Regions from separate parts of the Homo sapiens genome. Here regions 2 and 3 are each linked to region 1. Evidence: fine-mapped expression QTL. A gene starts in region 1. Each other region holds a variant in brackets. All regions are shown on one strand. Distances are between the middles of the regions.

Region 1 (5,372 bases):
TATTTCTGGTTAGGTTTATTGAGGTGGTTGCCTAAATCTCACTTTAAATAAAGCCTTTAATGCTTTCACCCAGAATCCATAGAGAAGCTACATGAGTTGGGGAAGTTTAGTGTTGCTCTTTGTACTTTAACTTTTAATATCAGAGCACATATTGAAACCATAAACACAATGAAAATACAAAAAAATATTCCGACGATATTGGAGGACTATAACTCCCCCACCTCTTTTTATTCTTAAAGAGCCAAGGGCGTGGGGAGTGGCAGGAAGAGATATTCTCAAGATCTAAGTCCTGGACGCCATCCTGCGAGTGCTTAAAGCCCCTAGAAACGTGCAACCTGAACAACACCCCTTTTCGAAGTCTAAAACAATATTAGATTCCCAAAATATCGGCAAAGAAAGTCTTACCGTCAGACTTGCAGCAGGTTTCAGCTCAGACCCAGACTGAAAAGCTGAGCAGCTGGTGAACAAAAGATTTAGTTTTTTTTTTTTTTTAAACGAAGTCTGCAAAACTAATTTCCCTCAAAATAGAGCTCAATTTCCGTTAAAGAAAGCAGCGCTTACAAATCTCAGAATTCCTGATCAACCCCCACTCCACCCCACCTCTGAGCAATAGAAAACAATTCGATCTTTCACACGGATGTTATTGCGAAGCCACTATTCTGCAGTGTGACTTAAAAGAAAAGAAGATAGTGAGGCTTAAGCAAGGGGACTGGAAGAGGAGGGGAAAGGTTCTGCTTTGGGGACACCTCTCAAAGATTAATCAATGCTTTTTCCTAATTCAAACCAGATGTCTAGCCCAGTTTGCTGTACCCATTAATCCCACTAACAACTTCAAAGACCTGGTCATCATCCTCTGGACACCTGAGACAATGAAAAAACGGGGCGACACTGCTGGTGGCGCATTTGGGGCCCCGGGCAGAATAGGTGACTACAGATATTCTCCTGATGCGACAGGTCGCAGATGGGACATGACTGTTCCTCCTGCTCATTACAGCGCCACTCACTTGTGTGTAAACGACTCTGCCCCCAGCGGACCCTGTCGCCCGCCAAGCAAGTAGCAGCTTCAAAGCCCTGCCCTCGCTCTCGCATGCTTACTAGAGGCGAGTTTTCTATTTTATTTTCAGGGGTGCAAAATTGTAACCAAGTGCCCACGGTGAGTGAATTTTGGGAGCTATCGAAATGTAAGAATTCTCAGTAAATGGAACCCTGGTGGTAAGGAATGCATTAGCGGATTTATTTTTGAGCAGAAGAGAGTGGATTTCTGGAGGAAACCGAGGAGATCTGGGCTAGCTCCTGAGGGGAAAGGCTAGAAATGCGCGTGCAATCTACACATCTCATATGACCGGGACACAATCGCTTGGAAATATTCTTGACCCAGGAAAAGTTCTTCTTGGTGGACAAGTGGCTAGGAAATTGAGCGGGACCGGGAAAGAGGGGGAAGGGAGCCTCCACCTGGCATCGCACGTGAGGATGCCAGGGAGCAGGCATCTGCAACCCTTTCAGACTCACGCCTTCCTCCCACCCACCCAACCAGGTCCGTCTTCTTTCTGCACTGAGAACCGCCTTTTCCAGGCCATGGTGCTCATCCCCGCAACCTCAGATCTGGCGTCCCAGCCTATTAACAACCCACCGACAGAAACCAGCTGCGAAAACCTAGGCGCGCTGCGGCGCCCGGGGCACGGGAAGATGCAAAGTTTGAAAAACTTCGAGGGTGCGCCAAACTAGCTCTGGTCTTTTCCTTTAACCCTATTACTTCTTTCGTGTTCCTGAAAGGATAGGCGTATCCCTAGCTTTTCTGCAGGTGACAGTTCCCAAATGACACTGACAAGTCACGTTTCCCCGAGAGGAAAGTGAGTAGGTAGGAATCAGGGTGCTAGGTTGGGGGTGGTGTGCGCCGCGCCCAGGCCTCCAGAGTCTGGAGGGCAGAGCTGCTGCCCTCCCGGGCGGGACTTAGACGTTGGCGTGCCGCTTGTAGTCCTGGCAGCCGGCAGTGCTGGGCGGGCGTGGACGCTCTACGTCCGTCCAGCAGGAGATAGGAAGTGGAACTGGGAGCGCGTGGCGCAGGCTGAGCGGGAGTTTTGGAGGGAGTTTGCATGTGGTCAACTCTGGGCTCCTAAGCCAGCCCCCAGCTCACGTTACACTCTATTTATAACTTCTCAGAGCCATTTCCCCCTGAAAGCAGTTCTCTGGGACCACCTTCTTTTGGCTTCAACCTCTCCCACTCTTGACATCTGAGTAGCTCAGGGAAGCTCTTCCAGGTCCGACTGTTCATATGTAAAGGAGACTGGCCGCTGGGGCTCAGGACCGGGATTATCCGAGCTCTGCAGAAGTGCACCGCTATTGCTTTGGGAGGTTAAAAAAAAAATCACACGGTTTCCAGTGAAAAAGTGACAGAGGGTGGTGGCCTTTGGAACCGCCGTGAAGTCTTCTGCCTGGAACCCGAAACTTGCATGCTATGGAACACCCGCTCTTTGGCTGCCTGCGCAGCCCTCACGCCACGGCGCAAGGCTTGCACCCGTTCTCCCAATCCTCTCTCGCCCTCCATGGAAGATCTGACCATATGTCTTACCCCGAGCTCTCTACTTCTTCCTCATCTTGCATAATCGCGGGATACCCCAACGAAGAGGGCATGTTTGCCAGCCAGCATCACAGGGGGCACCACCACCACCACCACCACCACCACCATCACCACCATCAGCAGCAGCAGCACCAGGCTCTGCAAACCAACTGGCACCTCCCGCAGATGTCTTCCCCACCGAGTGCGGCTCGGCACAGCCTCTGCCTCCAGCCCGACTCTGGAGGGCCCCCAGAGTTGGGGAGCAGCCCGCCCGTCCTGTGCTCCAACTCTTCCAGCTTGGGCTCCAGCACCCCGACTGGGGCCGCGTGCGCGCCGGGGGACTACGGCCGCCAGGCACTGTCACCTGCGGAGGCGGAGAAGCGAAGCGGCGGCAAGAGGAAAAGCGACAGCTCAGGTAAGGGCGCGCCAGGCACCCTCGAGAGTGCGCGCCGGGCTGGAAAAGGGGCGGAGAGATACTAGGGGAGATTCTCGCACTGGAGGGTGGCAGCAGGGAAGATGGGAATGTGTTGCCCTCTGTGGCTTCCTGCGGCCAAATTCGGCGGTGAAGCTTTGGTCCTGATATTTGGGGACACGTGTTTATTCGAGAGCAATGCGTATACAGCCAGCAGCTCTAAGCCCTCCAAAGTCCTAAACTAGTTTACCAGAAGGTTGATAAAAAAGGACAAGTGGCTGTGAAATCGATTGTGAAGCGTGACCTTCCATCCCAGCGCTGGGGAGGGAGGGGCGTGCGCCCAGGGATGCAGCGTCCGTTGGGCAGGCGTGCGTGCGGGTGCCGCTTCTTGACTTTTCTCTTGCAAGTTGCCGACTCTGAGTGGCTCGATTTTTCCCATCGTTAACTGGATTTCCAAATTATTGCACAATGTTTGGAACTTGCAATGGAACTTGGCAGAGCGCATGAGAAAAAAAAGTTTCAGTTTTTTTTTTTTAACATTCTTATTTCAGCGTTCTTTAAATAGCACCCTATTTCAAATGGTAAAATTTTCCCTTTATTGGGGAAGAAGACATTATCTAGGAATTCAGATTTTAAGGAATGTGTCAGAGAATTGTAAATAAATAGATGCTCACACTGGAAGAAAGACGAACCTTAATAGTACATGTCCATGTGGTGTAAGCTAATTACAGAACCTAAGTTTCAAAAGTGGAAAATAAATCCCTCTACCAAGTGGGTATTAGTAGAGACAAATACTGCGAAGCAACAGCAACTCGGGTACTGTTAGTTAGATACGTGTCTAAAGGGGTATGCAAGGGTGCGCGCAGGAGGCGCTGATTTCAGTGGGGATAATTTGAGCAGCCATGCAAAAGGGGAACCTTCCTGACCTCTGGTGCTTGAAGGCACAACGTGCCGAATAAATTGTAGCAATCCAGAGAAACTCAAAGTTTCCAGACAAGTTTTCAAAGCTCTTACCTACCTGTATTTTTATAAAATTGTTAAAAGATACTTTAAAATTAAGAGACTTGTGAGTTTTCTTTCGTGGGTATAGTGCAACCTGGATTAAATACTTTTGGAAGGTGTCATTTGTTTAATATAATATTTGCATATTTTTCTTCCTCTGTGGAATTGGGTTAATAATAGTCCTAGAAGGTAATCCCATATGTTGGTTTGAAGGATTGGAAAAATGTTGATCGTGTGTAAAGCTTTAGGTAAGATGCCACATAAATGAAAATGATTGGCCGCATATTTAATATTCCTTCACCATTCACAGCAATATCAATTGTTCTTCAGCGTTACTATAGGATGGATTCTTCTCTCACGGTCTCAAAAGCTAACTTTTATTTTCCAAGGTCAGGGGGTGAACTTTTAATGTTCCATCACAAATTAGTTTTTATAAGAAAATTACCAGTAGTGTCACTGATATTTAATGTATTTTCCTAACTATAAGTGAAACTCTCTTTAGATAGTGAGTTGAAAGGTTAATCATAGCAAAAAGGTTTCAATTTTTATTAGAAAAACAGTCGATTTTAGAATGCAGTGACAATTTCATAAACTGAACATTTGATATCAGTGTAACTTTGGAAGCAGATCCCAGTTCGGGTTGATGAGCGTACTCTTGCAATTCCCATAAGCTCTTACGGTTCATTTTATTTCTTGCAATGAGAAACCTACATGATAGATTGTTCTTCATGCTTCCTGAACTGAGCCATTGCCCTTAAGTTTCTCAGGGCAAACAATTTTCATACAAGCACATGTTATTTTGTTTGGGGAAAACTGAGAAAACGGAATTCAATAACTGATTCCCTTAATTTATTTTAATAATTTTTTTAAAAAATGGAATAATTTAACAAAACTAATTTATCTCTCCCCCCCAACTTAGTGGGAAATAACCATTTAACAAAATTAAATTCATTTCTACATTTTGAAGCTGATAATGAGGGTACTGGAAAAACAAGCAAATATAAGTGTTTGTGTCAGCTACATAAATTATTAACAGATTAAAACTTCAGTGGAAAGTACAATTAGTCATCACCAAGGATAAAAATACTGGGGATTTAGAATGAGCTTTTCTTTCCTTTGATATGTTGAAGAAATATTGACTAAAAGGAAAATCACAATAGTTTCTGTTTAAATCTATGTACACTTATTGAAAATAAAATTTTATTTGCCAATTTCAGCTGAAGGTATATTTGTCAGATATTGAGATAGATTTAAATTAAAGATATCTTTCTCGTGTAACAATTGCATTAGGTGTTCCATAAATTATCTTCAAAGATATTTTATTTCATAGACATCTTGATCTAGCACAAACTAAAACAATATTGAAAATGATTATGATCCTGGTATGCTATTAATACGTAT
Region 2 (5,372 bases), 27 kb before region 1:
ACATACATATGTATGCATGTATGTGTGTATGTATATGAACACACACATACACTGTATTATGTGTATATAGCTATATACAGATATATATAGATATAAAGGCTGCTTCACTGCTTCAAGTTTCTCTTATAGTACAATGGCTCCCCTAAGAGGGTTACAGAATTCCATTGACTGCTCTGTGAATTCATTTGCTGTGAGTTATTTCTGGCCAGCAAAAGCATGCAGTTACCTTTTGAATATCGTTCAAGTAGGCACTCCATGACTTTACCAGAGGTTTTTCCTGTAGAAATAAATCTGTGTATTATTTGTCTAGTCAAAAACAGAGCATGCTGACATGGGATCAGTGGGGGATTGGAAAATGGATCTGGGGTTGAGAAGAACGAGTAAGAGGGAATGTACTTATTTCAATAATACACCCAGGACAAAAAAACAAAATATATTATTTAAAGTTATGGAAGTAATGTGTGTATGGAGCTATATGCAGGAAAACCTTAATCGGTTTAATTCCTCTACACAAGTACTTAACTCTCGTCTGTGTATGATGTAATTTTATTGTCATTTGATTTCCATTCCCCTCGTTAATTATTATATTTCACCACTTTTAACACCTTCTTGTTGTGCTTGATTTAGGAAGAGATGTAAATACGCAGCTTTTAAAATCCTGGAGAAAAATTATCTACTCACCTCCCATCATACGCATACCTAAAAAAGCGTATGTATGCACACATGCACACACATGCCACAAATCTTGACTTTCCATCCTAAGAATGCACAGTGAAAAGGACATTATTTGCCTATCACAGTATCAAACAATAACTCTTAAAAGCTCTTCCCATCACACTTCCTTTTAAGATAAGTGGGTATTTTTTACATTGAAACGATACATAGTAACCTTCTAAAGTAAGCCCCTAGATTTAGAATATTTTGGCAGTAGTGTTTTTAGTGAGTATACAGTGACTGATACAGACATTGTTAAAATTAGAGGCTGAACATGTTTGATGTTTATCTTCCCTCCTTCTCCTCCTTTCTCTCATCATTTCATAAAAGCAATGACTTGGATTTTATTATGGAAATTATGCCATTCTGTTTAGAGACATCATTTTTAAATTTAGGTTTAGGTATATATTTGTCTAATAATTAATCACTAATACTACCTGAGTCAATAGTAAAATTACTATTCAATAAAATTCCTGTAAGATATAATTTAAAATGTGATAGGGAAATGTTTTCAGTGTGTTTTCTTTTGACTTTTGTGAAAGTTTTGTATGCTTATCAAATGCCTTTATATAGGGTTTTCTTTTCATAGACATTGTGGTACCTATAATTCTTGATTATTTGGCCTTAGTAGTTACAGCTAAGGTTAAATTTGCATTTGCATTACATTTCTAAAATAAATATAATATAATTTATAAAGTTCTTAATCACAAAAAGACAGGCCAAACCAACAAAGCTTAAAACTTTAGTACTAAGCTGGGCACCAGAGTTCGTGCCTGTAGTCCAGCTATTTGGGAATCCGTGGAGCCCAGCCTGCACAACAAAGTAAGACCTCATCTCTCTAAAATAAACTAATGAACAAAAACACCCAAAACAAAAAAGTTCCACCTTACTATGTCTGGACAGTCACATGCAAAAAAAAAAAAAAAAAAAAAAGAATTTAGAATGAGACCTTATACCCTTCACAAAAGTTAACTCAAAACTGACCACTGACATACATTTAAAATACAAAACTATAAAACTACTAGCAAATAACATAGAACTTCTAGATGATCTTGGGCATGATCACAACTTTTTAAATACAACACCAAAGGCAAGATCTATGAAAGAAAGAACTGATAAACAGGGCTCTATTAAAATAAAAAACTTCTATTCTGTGAAACATACTGTCAAGAGAAGGAAAAGATAACCACAGATTGGGAGAAAACATTTGTCCAAGACTTAACTGATGGACTGTTATCCAAAATACAAAAATAACTCTTACAACTCAACAATAAGAAAATGAACAACCTAATTTAATAAATAAGCCAAAGTTCTGAACACTTCACCAAAGAAGATACACAAATTAAAATAGCATATTAAAAGATGTACTACATCTCATGACACTGGGGAAGTACAAATTAAAACAACTATGAGATATTTTGACACACCTACTAAAATTGCCCAAATCCAAAACACTGACAATATTGAATGATGGAGGGAATATGGAGCAACAGAAACTTTCATTCCTTGCTGGTGGGAATGCAAAATACTACAGAAACTTTGAAATATAGTTTGGCAGTTTCTGACAAAGCTAAACTTACTCTTATCATATGACCCAGCTATCACACTCTTTGATATCTACCTGAAGACGCTAAAAACCACAAATGTTTATAGAAGCTTTATTCATAATTGCCAAAGCTTGAAAGCAAACCAGTATCCTTGAGTACATGAACAGATAAATAAACTGTGGTACAGCCAGACAATGGAATATTATTTAGCCCTGAAAAGAAATGAGCTATTGAGTCATGAAAAGATATGGAGGAAACTTAAATGCATATTACTAAGTGGAATAAGCCAATTTTTCAAGGCTACATACTGCATAATTCCAACAATATAACATTCTGTAAAAAGCAAAACTATGGGGCCAGTAAAAAGATCAGTGATTGTCTGGGATTTGGATAAAATAAGGGATGAATAAGCAGAACACAGAGGTATGCTAGGGCAGTGAAACTATTCTGTATGATGGATAC[C/A]TGTCATTATACATTTATCTAAACCTTTAGAATATAAAACACGGAGAGTGAATCCAAATGTAAAGTAAGACTTTGGTGAAAATACTGTATCAATGTAGGTTTATTGTGTAACAAACGTACCACTCTCATGCTGGATGTTTAGTAGTGGAGGAGGCTGTATCTGGAGGTGTGGGGAAGGAGAATACAGGAATTTTCTATACTTTCTCATCAAATTTGTTGGGAACTTAAAATTGCTCTAAAAGATAAAGTCTATTGCAAAAACAAAAAAACAACTAAAAAACACACGAACGAAAAGCCTTAATAAAATGTTTTCTCTTAAGGAATGAAGTAAATCAAATTACATTAAAAAAATAAAGTAGCCATAAAGCACCTTCCTGCCCAGGTCTCAAAGTACTTTTTAGCTAGCAACTCGTAACTGCTATATCCTTGAAGGCTTGTCAATACTTGCAGGAATTTTTATTAGTCGTCACCATAATAACTATTAAAGTCAATTATAATGCTTAACTTTTACTTTACAGATGAGAACATGAATGAATTTCATACCATTACATGTAGGACTAATTCTTAACTTTTAGCAATGATTGGGGGAAAGGAATAAAGCAGATCTTGCAATTCACATATTATCTGAAGCTTTCACACTAATTTCAAACTTATTTTCTATTAAATCATTTTTTAGAGGTGATAACCAAGATTGGGCAAATTCTGTCCAATTTATGCCTATTGTTCCATTATTGGAATGCTAAGCATGTGGGAGTTATTTATATCTTACTGCTCAAGATCATCGCCAAAGCCTGATTGCAAAAATTCAAGAAACTGCAACCTCAGGCATAAATGGGTTAATTTGTGTAATGCTTTTTTTCTTGTCCCTGCTGTCTTTTCTTGTCCATGCTTTTTCCCCCTTGTCTCTACCCTTTGAAACTGCTAATTAATAATGAAAAGTCTACAAGTAAGATCGACAAATAGGCATACGAGAAAATCACTGAGTTTGGATTTCTCAAAATTAGACAATTCAAATTTAGCTGAAGTTAGCAGAAGTTTAGAAATTCAAAATTTACAGTCCTCAAAACTTGTCTGATACTGAGATATGTGCGACAAATCTGATTTCCAAATGTGGATGAAGTCCACTTCGCTTTTCATAATTTTCCAGAATAGTTTCTAATCTAAAAAAATTCACCATTTGCTTTATTTTGATTACTTAGGTTTTGTTATATGGCTTATAAACGCTTTGAAACAACCAGTTCTGTTTCAGGTAATCTGTAATTCTGCAATCTCTAACCATTAATAGCTACACACAGACTTTCCAAATAGAATACAAAATTCATGACTAATATAAATGCCAGTTGGACAGATGACTAGGCCAACCCTTTCCACTATGAGAAACAATATAGCAAGTGTTCAACATATTTCAGTTAATGAATGAATGACCTAATGAAATTAGGAATGGACATTCCCAAAGGATTCCCATAAATAAACCTAAAAATCGTCATTTAAAATGAAGTTTTTTAATGCATGAGAGTGAAAAAATAATATTATGTTTTTTTCTTCTAATAGTGAATTTTGTGATGATAAAATTTATATTAATAATACCCAACATGTAGGATTCTAGGAACCATTCCATTTGTAATTCTTTAAAACCCCTTCTGCTGCTGGATGAAATGGGAACTGTTATACCACAGGTTTCCTACAGCACTGCAGGATGAATGGTCTTTTTCTAAGTGGCATTTGTATCACATGGATTGAATTTTAAACTGTTTTTTTCAGTGACCAATCAGACATTATAAAATAGTTATGCTACTGACTTGGTATGTGTTCAATGTCAAGCCATGTTTTTCCGTTGACAGCTTGAAAAGATTGTAAAACCACTAAAAATTTAAATTTGTGGTTCAAAGACACTTCTGCAGTTAGGCTGCTTTTATTTTTTCTCATTCCATTTAGTGAACACCTGCCTTTCACTGGATATTAAATCAATGCAAAACCTTTTAGATTTTGTTTGGAACCTAGGTAAAAACAAAAAAAAATTAAATATTTGGATAAAAGAAAAAGGATGGACTTATTTGTAGTTAGACTTTACATACTCAGAAGTACATACTTGTAAGACCTAATTTTTTTTTAATTATGCAACCTATTACTTAAGATAATGGAATATTATTTAAGGAAATAATGACTTGCTGTATTAGATTGAAGGTCGCAGTTCTGGAAGAGTAATTTAAGATGTAGTGGCCTGATGCTACTAACACTGTGATCATAATTGCCAACTTGTTAGCACCTAACTGAAAATTAATTGTACTAAAACCTGACTGTACATTATCCACCATGTATACCAACAGCTTATATAGAGTTTAGTACACAGAAGACATTTAGCTTACAACTGTTAAATTGAATTTTAAAAAACTGTCTTTTGAAACTCAGTGTTTATTTTCAATCAACAAACTTTTGAGCACCAACATTATATCAGACGTTCTTTTAGGTACTTAGGCTACCAAGGAAAAAAACATAGTCATATCCTCAAAAACTAAAACCCTAGTAGAGGAGAAAGAGAAATGTTTCCTAATAATTGGATATGGCAAGTGATCGAGAGCAGGGTTCTAAATCTTGACTTCCCATTAGAACCAGCTGAGAAGTTAAAAGCAAATAAATCTCACATCCAGG
Region 3 (5,372 bases), 260 kb before region 1:
GGTATGTTTCTTTTCAAGAGTGTATTATTAGCATTTCTCAACACAGCACACACCCATAGCTAGGGTGTGTGTTGGATGACACAGGGCACCTATGATGGTTTCTTTAAGGAGAAAAAGATAATAATCACTTTTGATTTTCACTTTCTGGGTGAACAGATGCAAATATTTTCAGCAAATTGTTGAGATATTTCCTGTGGTAAAGCAGTTCTTGGAGACTTGGAAGAGTTATTTGCTTACATCAGTTTTTAGGAGTAATTCATAGAAGAACAATTCAATTGCAAAACCTAATATCGTTCCTCAAGCTACACCCTCTCTTCTTGTAGAAAAACACTGCCCAGGCTTCCTATTAAATACAAATCTTTTCCTAAAAGAAGGTGAGTGGCATCGAGTTTGAAACAATGGAGTGCCATCTGGAATGACAATTTATAGAAGCTACAAAAAGCTAGCTACAAAAAAAATGAGCATTATCCTTAAGGAATGATAATACATGCTAAAGATGTACAGTATTGAATTAGATTTCAATCTCATGAAACTTATAATCTTATTGAAAAACATAGGTTTTGAATCAAAACTCAAGGTAAAACGGAAATACACAGATAAATATTCTCCAAAGTGTGTGTGTGTGAATACACACATATACATATGTGTACATATTACACATATATTTATGTAATGTATGTATGTTTTTTAAATGTTTTAAAATCTTTAAACATGATTCCATATTCTATATAGATGACATGAGAAATCAGAAATAAGAGAGAAAAATAATTTCAAACACTGTAAAATAATTCAATATTAATTTTGAGAAAATTACCAACTGCTAACTTTTTAAATTATTAATAAAATGTAGTTTCCAACTTGGTGAAAATATTTCCTCGTTACTTTTGTAAGTTTTCATGAATTGCATTTATAAGATTTGCTTTAAGATTATATTTTAAAGCATAAAGATATTTTAAAATTGCACATGTAAAATAGACTGGAGAAATATTAGATTAAAAAGATAGAGGACTTGATAATTCTCATATACACCACTAACAACTGTGTGTTCATGTACGTTCAAAGACATCAGTCATTACTATTTTTTTAATCCAAATCTATTTTAGGCAAAACCATTATTTTTATATACATTTAAATTCTGATAGTTATCTTTTGTGTTTTACTATAATATGCATGACTATTGTATGCCATCTTGATCTCTGACCATCATCAGGGTTTAGAAATATGCTGTTCTAGTGGCAATATATTGAATCTCATAGCACACCTTCTCATGACAAGAAACTATGATCCCTATTCTATGTAATGAGTGAGAGGGTTTTATATTTGGAAGTCTCAGGAAATAGAACTAGCAGGGGACATTTGGGTCATAGTTTGAAGGACCATAATATAAAAAATAAGATAGATGAGTAGAGGTGTGAGTTAAAAAAAAAAAAAAAAACCATAGAAATAGGAGTCATTTTAATGGTATGCAGTTTAGAAGGAACTTCACGTATATATTCTCACATGGTCACTTTTTGATCTCTATGGAAACATCAACTAAAATCATTTAGTAAAAAGCTGATGATTTTAGGCAAAAATGAGGGTATGCTGTGACTGAGATTTCAAGAAAACAATTGTTTCTGAGAAATGTACACGTGTCTTCCTATTATGTTCTGGATGAAGCCATTCAAAACATGTTAATTAATAATGTAACTTTTTCTTTCTCTTTCTCTCTCTCCGCCCCTCCCCACCACCCTCTTCTCTCTTTCTTTCTTTCCTTCTTTCACGGAGTTTTGCTATTGCTGCCCAGGCTGGAATGCAGTGGTGCGATCTTGGCTGTCTGCAACCTCCGCGCCTCCCGGGTTCAAGCGTTTCTCCTGCCTCAGCCTCTTGAGTAGCTGGGATTACAGGCGCATGCCACCACATCCAGCTAATTTTTTTTATTTATTATTTTTTTTAATTAAACTTTAAGTTTTAGGGTACATGTGCGCATTGTGCAGGTTAGTTACATATGTATACATGTGCCATGCTGGTGCACTGCACCCACTAACTCGTCATCTAGCATTAGGTATATCTCCCAATGCTATCCCTCCCCCCTCCCCCCACCCCACAACAGTCCCCAGAGTGTGATATTCCCCTTCCTGTGTCCGTGTGATCTCATTGTTCAATTCCCACCTATGAGTGAGAATATGCGGTGTTTGGTTTTTTGTTCTTGCGATAGTTTAC[TG/G]AGAATGATGTTTTCCAATTTCATCCATGTCCCTACAAAGGACATGAACTCATCATTTTTTATGGCTGCATAGTATTCCATGGTGTATATGTGCCACATTTTCTTAATCCACTCTATCATTGTTGGACATTTGGGTTGGTTCCAAGTCTTTGCTATTGTGAATAATGCCGCAATAAACATACGTGTGCATGTGTCTTTATAGCAGCATGATTTATAGTCCTTTGGGTATATATCCAGTAATGGGATGGCTGGGTCAAATGGTATTTCCAGTTCTATATCCCTGAGGAATCGCCACACTGACTTCCACCATGGTTGAACTAGTTTACAGTCCCACCAACAGTGTAAAAGTGTTCCTATTTCTCCACATCCTCTCCAGCACCTGTTGTTTCCTGACTTTTTAATGATTGCCATTCTAACTGGTGTGAGATGGTATCTCATTGTGGTTTTGATTTGCATCTCTCTGATGGCCAGTGATGATGAGCATTTTTTCATGTGTGTTTTGGCTGCATAAATGTCTTCTTTAGAGAAGTGTCTGTTCATGTCCTTCGCCCACTTTTTGATGGGGTTGTTTGTTTTTTTCTTGTAAATTTGTTTGAGTTCATTGTAGATTCTGGATATTAGCCCTTTGTCAGATAAGTAGGTTGCAAAAATTTTCTCCCATTTTGTAGGTTGCCTCTTCACTCTGATGGTAGTTTCTTTTGCTGTGCAGAAGCTCTTTAGTTTAATTAGATCCCATTTGTCAATTTTGTCTTTTGTTGCCATTGCTTTTGGTGTTTTAGACATGAAGTCCTTGCCCATGTCTATGTCCTGAATGGTAATGCCTAGGTTTTCTTCTAGGGTTTTTATGGTTTTAGGTCTAACGTTTAAGTCTTTAATCCATCTTGAATTGATTTTTGTATAAGGTGTAAGGAAGGGATCCAGTTTCAGCTTTCTACATATGGCTAGCCAGTTTTCCCAGCACCATTTATTAAATAGGGAATCCTTTCCCCATTGCTTGTTTTTCTCAGGTTTGTCAAAGATCAGATAGTTGTAGATATGTGGCGTTATTTCTGAGGGCTCTGTTCTGTTCCATTGATCTATATCTCTGTTTTGGTACCAGTACCGTGCTGTTTTGGTTACTGTAGACTTGTAGTATAGTTTGAAGTCAGGTAGTGTGATGCCTCCAGCTTTGTTCTTTTGGCTTAGGATTGACTTGGCGATGAGGGCTCTTTTTTGGTTCCATATGAACTTTAAAGTAGTTTTTTCCAATTCTGTGAAGAAAGGCATTGGTAGCTTGATGGGGATGGCATTGAATCTGTAAATTACCTTGGGCAGTATGGCCATTTTCACAATATTGATTCTTCCTACCCATGAGCATGGAATGTTCTTCCATTTGTTTGTATCCTCTTTTATTTCCTTGAGCAGTGGTTTGTAGTTCTCCTTGAAGAGGTCCTTCACATCCCGTGTAAGTTGGATTCCTAGGTATTTTATTCTCTTTGAAGCAATTGTGAATGGGAGTTCACTCATGATTTGGCTCTCTGTTTGTCTGTTGTTGGTGTATAAGAATGCTTGTGATTTTTGTACATTGATTTTGTATCCTGAGACTTTGCTGAAGTTGCTTATCAGCTTAAGGAGATTTTGGGCTGAGACAATGGGGTTTTCTAAATATACAATCATGTCATCTGCAAACAGGGACAATTTGACTTCCTCTTTTCCTAATTGAATACCCTTTATTTCCTTCTCCTGCCTAATTGCCCTGGCCAGAACTTCCAACACTATGTTGAATAGGAGTGGTGAGAGAGGGCATCCCTGTCTTGTGCCAGTTTTCAAAGGGAATGCTTCCAGTTTTTGCCCATTCAGTATGATATTGGCTGCGGGTTTGTCATAGATAGCTCTTATTATTTTGAAATACGTCCCATCAATACCTAATTTATTGAGAGTTTTTAGCATGAAGGGTTGTTGAATTTTGTCAAAGGCTTTTTCTGCATCTATTGAGATAATCATGTGGTTTTTGTCTTTGGCTCTGTTTATATGCTGGTTTACATTTATTGATTAGCGTATATTGAACCAGCCTTGCATCCCAGGGATGAAGCCCACTTGATCATGGTGGACAAGCTTTTTGATGTGCTGCTGGATTCATTTTGCCAGTATTTTATTGAGGATTTTTGCATCAATGTTCATCAAGGATATTGGTCTAAAATTCTGTTTTTTTGTTGTGTCTCTGCCTGGCTTTGGTATCAGAATGATGCTGGCCTCATAAAATGAGTTAGGGAGGATTCCCTCTTTTTCTATTGATTGGAATAGTTTCAGAAGGAATGGTACCAGTTCCTCCTTGTACCTCTGGTAGAATTCAGCTGTGAATCCATCTGGTCCTGGACTCTTTTTGGTTGGTAAGCTATTGATTATTGCCACAATTTCAGCTCCTGTTATTGGTCTATTCAGAGATTCAACTTCTTCCTGGTTTTAGTCTTGGGAGAGTGTATGTGTCGAGGAATTTATCCATTTCTTCTAGATTTTCTAGTTTATTTGCGTAGAGGTGTTTGTAGTATTCTCTGATAGTTTGTATTTCTGTGGGATGGGTGGTGATATCCCCTTTATCATTTTTTATTGCGTCTGTTAGAGTCTTCTCTCTTTTTTTCTTTATTAGTCTTGCTAGTGGTCTATCAATTTTGTTGATCCTTTCAAAAAACCAGCTCCTGGATTCATTAATTTTTTGAAGGGTTTTTTTGTGTCTCTATTTCCTTCAGTTCTGCTCTGATTTTAGTTATTTCTTGCCTTCTGCTAGCTTTTGAATGTGTTTGCTCTTGCTTTTCTAGTTCTTTTAATTGTGATGTTAGGGTGTCAATTTTGGATCTTTCCTGCTTTCTCTTGTGGGCATTTAGTGCTATAAATTTCCCTCTACACACTGCTTTGAATGCATCCCAGAGATTCTGGTATGTTGTGTCTTTGTTCTCGTTGATTTCAAAGAACATCTTTATTTCTGCCTTCATTTCGTTATGTACCCAGTAGTCATTCAGGAGCAGGTTGTTCAGTTTCCATATAGTTGAGCAGTTTTGAGTGAGATTCTTAATCCTGAGTTCTAGTTTGATTGCACTGTGGTCTGAGAGATAGTTTGTTATAATTTCTGTTCTTTTACATTTGCTGAGGAGAGCTTTACTTCCAACTATGTGGTCAATTTTGGAATAGGTGT

Which allele goes with the higher level. Alleles are on the strand shown, and positions count from the first base shown. SD is a standard deviation of normalised expression in the study named.
For the expression in nucleus accumbens of the gene that starts at base 2,175 in region 1, C is the high allele of the variant in region 2 and A is the other (moderate effect, 0.47 SD a copy in GTEx).
With allele G in place of TG in region 3, the expression in esophagus muscle of the gene that starts at base 2,175 in region 1 is higher (small effect, 0.26 SD a copy in GTEx).

Evidence for each region. PIP is the estimated chance that this variant, and not a neighbour inherited with it, causes the effect.
Region 2: its variant is the best candidate, but not a certain one, in a credible set for the expression of MEOX2 in nucleus accumbens (GTEx, PIP 0.54).
Region 3: its variant is the best candidate, but not a certain one, in a credible set for the expression of MEOX2 in esophagus muscle (GTEx, PIP 0.82).

Annotation. Positions count from the first base shown.
Region 1 is chr7:15,683,486-15,688,857 of GRCh38, reverse strand. It overlaps MEOX2 (mesenchyme homeobox 2), which reads left to right and starts at 2,175. Exons shown (of 3, transcript NM_005924.5): 1 at 2,175-2,972. The coding sequence starts at 2,456. It overlaps LINC02587 (long intergenic non-protein coding RNA 2587), which reads right to left and starts at 480. Exons shown (of 2, transcript NR_110094.1): 1 at 406-480. RefSeq lists an enhancer at 2,979-3,811.
Region 2 is chr7:15,710,430-15,715,801 of GRCh38, reverse strand. LOC101927558 (a long non-coding RNA gene) reads right to left here. Exons shown (of 4, transcript XR_927057.3): 2 at 227-277. Among named protein-coding and RNA genes, the nearest start is that of LINC02587, 25 kb to the right of the region's middle. The variant C/A (reference allele first, on the strand shown) is at 2,724.
Region 3 is chr7:15,942,810-15,948,181 of GRCh38, reverse strand. No RefSeq gene overlaps it. Among named protein-coding and RNA genes, the nearest start is that of LINC02587, 260 kb to the right of the region's middle. The variant TG/G (reference allele first, on the strand shown) is at 2,203.